3 separate regions of the Homo sapiens genome follow, and all the other regions are linked to region 3. The links come from fine-mapping of genetic effects on gene expression. A gene starts in region 3. Each other region holds a variant in brackets. All regions are shown on one strand. Distances are between the middles of the regions.

Evidence for each region.
Region 1: its variant is fine-mapped to the expression of NFKB1 in whole blood (INTERVAL, PIP above 0.99).
Region 2: its variant is fine-mapped to the expression of NFKB1 in whole blood (INTERVAL, PIP above 0.99). The same link has a PIP of 0.9 or more in CD4 T cells.

What each region holds. Positions count from the first base shown.
Region 1 is chr4:102,478,639-102,481,397 of GRCh38, forward strand. All of the region lies in intron 1 of NFKB1-AS1 (NFKB1 antisense RNA 1), which reads right to left. Among named protein-coding and RNA genes, the nearest start is that of NFKB1, 21 kb to the right of the region's middle. RefSeq lists an enhancer at 1-299. The variant G/C (reference allele first, on the strand shown) is at 1,078.
Region 2 is chr4:102,526,307-102,529,065 of GRCh38, forward strand. The region is part of intron 2 of NFKB1 (nuclear factor kappa B subunit 1); the gene reads left to right. Among named protein-coding and RNA genes, the nearest start is that of NFKB1-AS1, 25 kb to the left of the region's middle. The variant A/G (reference allele first, on the strand shown) is at 1,668.
Region 3 is chr4:102,499,855-102,502,613 of GRCh38, forward strand. NFKB1 (nuclear factor kappa B subunit 1) reads left to right here and starts at 1,505. Exons shown (of 24, transcript NM_003998.4): 1 at 1,505-1,934. It overlaps NFKB1-AS1 (NFKB1 antisense RNA 1), which reads right to left and starts at 2,632. Exons shown (of 5, transcript NR_136202.1): 1 at 2,585-2,632. RefSeq lists silencers at 1,185-1,444, 1,455-2,024 and an enhancer at 2,135-2,184.

The sequences.
Region 1 (2,759 bases), 21 kb before region 3:
GGAGTGCCCCTCTGGGACAAAGCTTCCAGAGGAAGGATCAGGCAGCAATATTTGCTGTTCTGCATTATTTGCTGTTCTGCAGTTTCCACTGGTGACACCCAGGCAAACAGGGTCTGCAGTGGACCTCCAGCAAACTCCAACAGACCTGCAGCTGAGCAACCTGACTGTTAGAAGGAAAACTAACAACAGAAAGGAATAGCATCAACATCAACAAAAAGGACATCTACACCGAAACCCCATCTGTAGGTCACCAACGTCAAAGACCAAAGGTAGATAAAACAACAAAGATGGGGAGAAAACAGAGCAGAAAAGCTGAAAATTCTAAAAATCAGAGCGCCTCTTCTCCTCCAAAGGATTGCAGCTCCTCGCCAGCAACAGAACAAAGCTGGACTGAGAATGACTTTGACAAGTTGACAGAAGTAGGCTTCAGAAGGTTGGTAATAATAAACTTCTCCGAACTAAAGGAGCATGTTTGAACCCATTGCAAGGAAGCTAAAAACCTTGAAAAAAAGGTTAGATGAACGGCTAACTAGAATAAACAGTGTAGAGAAAACCTTAAATGACCTGATGGAGCTGAAAACCCATGGCATAAGAACTTCATGAGGCATGCACAAGCTTCAATAGCTGATTCAATCAAGTGGAAGAAAGGGTGTCAGTGACTGAAGATCAAATTAATGAAATAAAGCGAGAAGACAAGGTTAGAGAAAAAAGAGTAAAAAGAAATGAACAAAGTGTCCAAGAAATATGGGACTATGTGAAAAGACCAAATCTACATTTGATTGGTGTACCTGAAAGTGATGGGGAGAATGGAACAAAGTTAAAAAACATTCTTCAGGACATGATCCAGGAGAACTTCCCCAACCTAGCAAGGCAGGCCAACATTCAAATTCAGGAAACACAGAGAACACCACAAAGATACTCCTCGAGAAGAGCAACCCCAAGACACATAATTGTAAGATTCACTAAGGTTGAAATGAAGGAAAAAATGTTAAGGGCAGCCAGAGAGAAAGGTCAGGTTACCTACAAAGGGAAGCCCATCAGACTAACAGCAGATATCTTGGCAGAAACCCTACAAGC[G/C]AGAAGAGAGTGGGAGCCAATATTCAACATTCTTAAAGAAAAGAATTTTCAACCCAGAATTTCATATCCAGCCAAACTAAGCCTCATAAGTGAAGGAGAAATAAAATGCTTTACAGACAAGCAAATGCTGAGACATTTTGTCACCACCAGGCCTGCCTTATAAGAGCTCCTGAAGGAAGCGCTAAACATAGAAAGAAACAAACAGTACCAGCCACTGCAAAAACATGACAAATTGTAAAGACTACTGATGCTAGGAAGAAACTGTATCAATTAATGGGCAAAATAACCAGCTAGCATCATAATGACAGGATCAAATTCACACATAACAATATTAACCTTAAATGTAAATGGGCTAAATTCTCCAATTAAAAGACACAGACTGGCAAATTGGATAGAGTCAAGACCCATCATTGTGCTGTATTTAGGAAACCCATCTCACGTGCAGAGACACACATAGGCTCAAAATAAAGGGATGGAGGAAGATCTACCAAGCAAATGGAAAGCAAAAAAAAAGCAGGGGTTGCAATCCTAGTCTCTGATAAAAGAGACTTTAAACCAACAAAGATCAAAAGAGACAAAGAAGGCCATTACATAATGGTAAAGGGAGCAATTCAATAAGAGCTAACTATCCTAAATATACATGCACCCAATACAGGAGCACCCACATTCAAAAAGCAAGTCCTTAGAGACCTACAAAGAGATTTAGACTCCGACACAATAATAATGGGAGGCTTTAACACCCCACTGTCAATATTAGACAGATCAGCAAGACAGAAGGTTAACAAGGATATCCAGCACTTGAACTCAGCTCTGCACCAAGCATACCTAATAGCCATCTGCAGAACTCTCCACCCCAAATCAACAGAATATACATACTTCTCAGCACCACATCGCACTTATTCTAAAATTGACCACATAATTGGAAGTAAAGCACTCCTCAGCAAATATAAAAGAACAGAAATCACAACAAACTGTCTCTCAGACCACAGTGCAATCAAATTAGAACTCAGGATTAAGAAACTCACTCAAAACCACACAACTACATGGAAGCTGAACAACTTGCTCCTGAATGACTACTGGGTAAATAATGAAATGAAGGCAGAAATAAAAATGTTCTTTGAAACCAATGACAATGACAACAAAGACACAAAGTACCAGAATCTCTGGGACACATTTAAAGCAGTGTGTAGAAGGAAATATAGAGCACTAAATGCCCACAAGAGAAAGTGTGAAAGATCTAAAACCAATACCCTTACATCATAATTAAAAGAACTAGAGAAGCAAGAGCAAACACATTCAAAAGCTAGCAGAAGGCAAGAAATAACTAAGATCAGAGCAGAACTCAAGGAGATAGAGACACAAAAAGCCCTTCAAAAAATCAATGAATCCAGGATTTGGTTTTTTGAAAAGATCTACAAAATTGATAGACCACTAGCAAGACTAATAAAGAAGAAAAGAGAGAAGAATCAAATAGACGCAATAAAAAATGATAAAGGGATATCAACACCAATCCTGCAGAAATACAAACTAGCATCAGAGAATACTATAAACATTTCTATGCAAATAAACTAGAAAATCTAGAAGAAATGGATAAATTCCTGGACACATACACCCTCCCAAAACTAAACCAGGAAGAATTTGAATCTCTGAATAGTACAATAACAGTTTCTGAAATTGAGGCA
Region 2 (2,759 bases), 26 kb after region 3:
AGAGTGGAATGACAGACCATGGAGATTCAGAAAGGTGAGGGATGGGAGGGCAGTGGGATGGGGGTGGATGATAAGAAGTTACTTAATGGGTACAATGTATGTTATTTGAGTGTTGGATACCCTAAAAACCCTGTTTTGACTACTATACAATCTATGCATGTAACAAAATTGCACTTGTACCCCATCAATTTATACCAAAAAAAAATTTTATTTAAAACTCATCTAGTAAGGAGACAGATTGTTGTAGTGAAAAGATCTTTGAACTCAGAATTTGAAGATCTTTATATAAGTACTGACTACTACAGATCAGCTCCTCAGACTTGAAGAATCACTTAGTCCCCGTAATCCTCACTTTTCTCATTTGTAAAATAGAAATGCTAGCACCACACTAACAGGGATGAGTCAAAAATATTCAATGAATGTGCTTTGTAAGCATAAAACTGTTCCTATCATTATATTAGTAGTTATGAAAGGATAGCAGTGTCCTTTTTTCTTTTTCTCCTATATTTTATTTTGAAAAATGTTGGAAAAAATAAATAGAAATGTTGGAATAATCTAACAAATCTACATTGGTTCTTAAAACCGACATTTTCGCTTTTCTCTTTGCTCTCTTTTTCGTGTGTGTGTGTGTGTGTATATATGTATATATGTATATGTATATACATAATCATTTGGAAGCAATTTTCAGACTCTGGAGCAATTATAATGGCAATATTAAATTATTTATGTAATGATTCCAAGAAGTATTTAAAACATGGAGATTTGTTCATTCATCAGCTATTTATTGAGGTATTACTACGTGCCAGAACATTGGCTTAGTGGGGAAAAAATAAGTGATATATACACTCTAATTTCAGGAACCTACTATTTTAATAGGAAGAACAGAGACATTGTTTTCATATGGTGATATATGCTGTAGTAGTAGTCTGCGCAGAGCGGGATAGAAATGTTAATAAGCAGCATCACTAGGTGCTACCTTGGAGGAAGAGCAGAGTTACGGAGGACTTTCCGAAGGAAGTCTTCGTAAGCTGTGTTTTGAAAGATGTAGTTTGCTAGACTAGAAAAGGTGAAGGAACACTAGGTGCCAGGATAGCCTGGTCACATTTAAATTTTAGTGGAAATCATTTAAAATAGTGGATTTCTGAAATTACACGTGCAAAGAATCAGCCAGAAAAATAAAAACAGAAGTGGAATATGTTTTAAAGGCTCTGGTATCATTTCTATAAATAAAATGGACATATATAGCATTTATCACTTCGGGTGATATTCTGATTGATTTAGAAAGAATGACTGCATTGCTTTTCACATTAAGATGCTCCTTTCTAATTTTATTTTTAAAATGGTGATTTAGGATAAATCTAGGAACATTTTCTTTTATTGCAGCAAAGACATTTGGCTAATTGTATTATCAAAACCGTTTGTTTTACCTTTCGCTTTTATTGTGCTTTCTCTAACAATTAAGGGCGAACTAACCAGCATGAGGATTGTGTCTGCTTGATTTTAAACCATCCTTTCCTGTCTGTACACAGGAAATCTTATCAACAAGAGATGATTCTTTATGCCACAGAAGAGTAAAATCTGCTGAAAACATTCATTTTGAAAGTTTTTCTTATGTGGGCATCTTTGCGATCATCAGTAACAGGGGTGGGGCATATTCTGACATTTCC[A/G]TTTTTGAGGCAAGCGGTCTTGAAGTTTTTTTCTTTCTTGGCTTGAGCTTGGTGGTTTATATTTCCTAAAGTTTGCATGTCCTCAGTGTTTTAGTGGAGTCTGGAATTTGCTCTCCACCCTGACCTAATAAACAATGCAAGCTGCAGCACAACACAACTTCTCTCTTAGTCTGAAGTGAAGAGTATATCTCTCTCCTAAGGTGAGCCCTTTTGCCCACTCGCCAGTCATTTAGCCACCACAGGAAAGAGTTTTCCTGCTAGGTTATCACGTTTGCTCTGAGACTGTTAAAATCCTGTATGAAATGAGGCCCATTTTTGCAGAACATGGTTTTTCATTCCTGTATTTCCTTTTCAGCAAACAATGAATAGCATCAGTGAGCTTTTAATCTTATAAGCATTGAAGTGAAGCGCATTCTTTGTTCCTCAGTTGAAAATTTGCATCCCTCAAATGGATCTGAAGTACTGTTTATTTAAACGAGATTTTTCTTACTCTTAATTTAACTAGGCATACGAAGATCTTCAGTACCCCAGAACTTTCAATAATTTACTACTAAGGGCAGGAGACAAACTGTAATACTGGCTACTAAAAGAAACGAAAAGCTAGTTCAGCACACTTACTAGTCTCTCATAAAAAGTAAAATATGGCTGGTTTCCATGCTGTCCACAGACATTTCAAACATATAACTTCTTTAGGCTAAAATAAATAGCAAGCTCAGAAATACAGTTTTAAAGTCCTAAATGAGCCAGCGGTTACAATGTTTTTTGATAAGTAATGAATAGTAATTTATTAAGATAAAATGTACTTTCTTCAAAATATTCTGCATGCCCACTCTGTTGCTGCCCTAACACATTACCACATACTTGGGGCTTAAAACAACACAAATTTATACTTCTGAGTCAGGAGCTCAGAAATCTAGAATCAAGGTGTTGGCAGGGCTGCTTTCCTTCTTGCAGCTCTCATCTCTTTGCCTTTTGAGCTTCTAGTGGCTGCCTGCTTTCCCTGTGCACCCTCTCATCACTCCAGCCTCTTGCTTCCTTTGTCATACTTCCTACTATTCAGTGTGATTTCCTGAACCCCTCTCATCAGGCCCA
Region 3 (2,759 bases):
CGGCTAATTTTTTTGTATTGTTAGTAGAGATGGGGTTTCACCATATTGGTCAGGCTGGTCTCAAACTCCTGACCTCAGGGGATCCACCCGCCTTGGCCTCCCAAAGTGCTGGGATTACAGGTGTGAGCCACCGCACCCGGCTCACAGAATTTCTTAAAAAGTCATTGTGTTCAGTCTTTATGGATCCTCTAAATTCCAGCTGCTCAGCCTCCCGGAGCTAAATGAGATCACTTAAAGGTCGACTGTTGGGGCCTCCAAGGTCGCCTCGGAGACTCACCTCATAGGCAATCAAATGGATCGCTGGGTTTTTGTGTGTGTGGGTTTTTTTTGTTTATTTTTTTTTTCCAGAAAAACACTCCACCAAGAAGGTTTTTATAACCTACTGGAGGAGGAGGATGGAGAGTGGGCACGAAAGGACTAGGATGAACATGCCATAAGCAATCTAAATGCCACTGCAATATTGCCTGGTGAGGACCTGATTACTGATGTTTTAAAGCTAAGCTTTCAGTTGTCACTCCACCCAGTAGTGAAACAATGAGCTCTAAAATATATATTTCGGCTCAAGCTTTCTTATGTGGGGAGGTAATCCACCCGAAGGTATCCCCAGCCTGTACCTAATACAGTGCCCAGCACTAAAGCAGCTCAGATGCCAGTGAATGGTGGCCACTGGGAGGCCTGTCAGTGGGTGCCAGTAGCGGTCTCTTCAGAGAAAAAGAAAACTCCCCTCTGCCAGATCAGTATTTTATGAGCTGTGAACCAAAACCATTGCTACCACCATCACTATAATTCTATCCACAGTAATTATCATAAAGGCCTAACAATGCCTTGTAGATGAACATTCTGAGTAACTGCTCTATAACCAGGAGATTTAAGACCGCACCAAAAACCAGTAGAGGGTTATACTTTACTGGGCACAAGTCGTTTATGATAACGAAATTGTAGTTTAATCTGTGAAGAGATGTGAATGTAACTGAGACACGCTTAAATGGAATATACAGATGAGCTTTATTTTTATATCTGGCATGCTTGGATCCATGCCGACCCTCCAGCTGCTCGGGCCTGCCCTTAGGGGCTATGGACCGCATGACTCTATCAGCGGCACTGCCACCGCCGCCGCCTCCGTGCTGCCTGCGTTCCCCGACCATTGATTGGGCCCGGCAGGCGCTTCCTGGGGGCTTCCCTACCGGCTCCAGCCCTTGGGATTCGGGAGCGCCCTGCTAGGAAGCCAGAGCCCCGCAGGGGCCGCGGCGTCCAGGCCGCCTAACGCGCGCCCCTCGCCCGGCGCCCCGAAGCGGCCCCGAGGGGCGGGAGCCGAGGCGAGCGGCAAGGCCGGGCCGGGGGCGCACAGCGCCCCTAGAAGTGCGGGCTTCCCCCACCCCCGGCAGCGACCCTACCTCCCGCCCCCGCTGCGTGCGCGCGTGTGTCCGTCTGTCTGTATGCTCTCTCGACGTCAGTGGGAATTTCCAGCCAGGAAGTGAGAGAGTGAGCGAGACAGAAAGAGAGAGAAGTGCACCAGCGAGCCGGGGCAGGAAGAGGAGGTTTCGCCACCGGAGCGGCCCGGCGACGCGCTGACAGCTTCCCCTGCCCTTCCCGTCGGTCGGGCCGCCAGCCGCCGCAGCCCTCGGCCTGCACGCAGCCACCGGCCCCGCTCCCGGAGCCCAGCGCCGCCGAGGCCGCAGCCGCCCGGCCAGTAAGGCGGCGCCGCCGCCCGGCCACCGCGCGCCCTGCGCTTCCCTCCGCCCGCGCTGCGGCCATGGCGCGGCGCTGACTGGCCTGGCCCGGCCCCGCCGCGCTCCCGCTCGCCCCGACCCGCACTCGGGCCCGCCCGGGCTCCGGCCTGCCGCCGCCTCTTCCTTCTCCAGCCGGCAGGCCCGCGCCGCTTAGGAGGGAGAGCCCACCCGCGCCAGGAGGCCGAACGCGGACTCGCCACCCGGGTAAGCCAAACTCGGGCGAGTGGGGGCCCGGCAGGGGACGCGTGGCCCAAGTCCTGCCGCCCAGCCCTCCGCACCCCCTCCAGCCCCACTCGGACTTCCTCATTCCTGCGCTAACCGCTGGGCTAGACCGTGGGAGGAGGTTGACAGTAGCTGAGAGGCACATGGGATTAGCGACAGCGGGGAAAGACACATCCGGACCTCGCAGGGGCTAGTCGGCCGAAGGGCCGCGGCCGCCCGGCGGTCATTTCTCTTCACGTCCCTCCGCGGGGCGGGAACGCGAACCGGAGGGGAACTCTTACAAACTTTTAAAATCCCCAACCCCAGCCCCACCTGGGGGATGGTGAGAAGGTTGGAGTGCGCTGCGGCGCGGAGGAGAGAGGGAAGGTGGTTGGTGCAGTGCAGAACCAGATTTCACCTAAGGGCGTTCCATGAAATGAAAGCAGAAGTGCTTGTCAGTCCTCTTGGCTGGGAAAGCCCTCCCCAGCTCCCCAGAATTGAATAGGAGAGTCTATTCATCCCTCTCCTACTTCTAAAAGAAACCTGGCTCGCTCTCTGTCTCTCTCTCTCTCCCCCCTCCCCCCCTCCGTGCGCGCGCGCGCGCGCACACACACACACACACACACACACACACACACACACGATATAGTCACCTGCTATAGGACTTGATTCTGATCCTCCGGGGCCTGGCATTTGAGAGAGAAAATAAATTACCTACCTGGATACTTAGAGCACTTTTTAGACTTGATTATGTAAAACTCTTGGACAGTGCCACCATGCATTATGCATGACCGCTGAAACAAAAATAATGTAAAAACAAGGCCTATC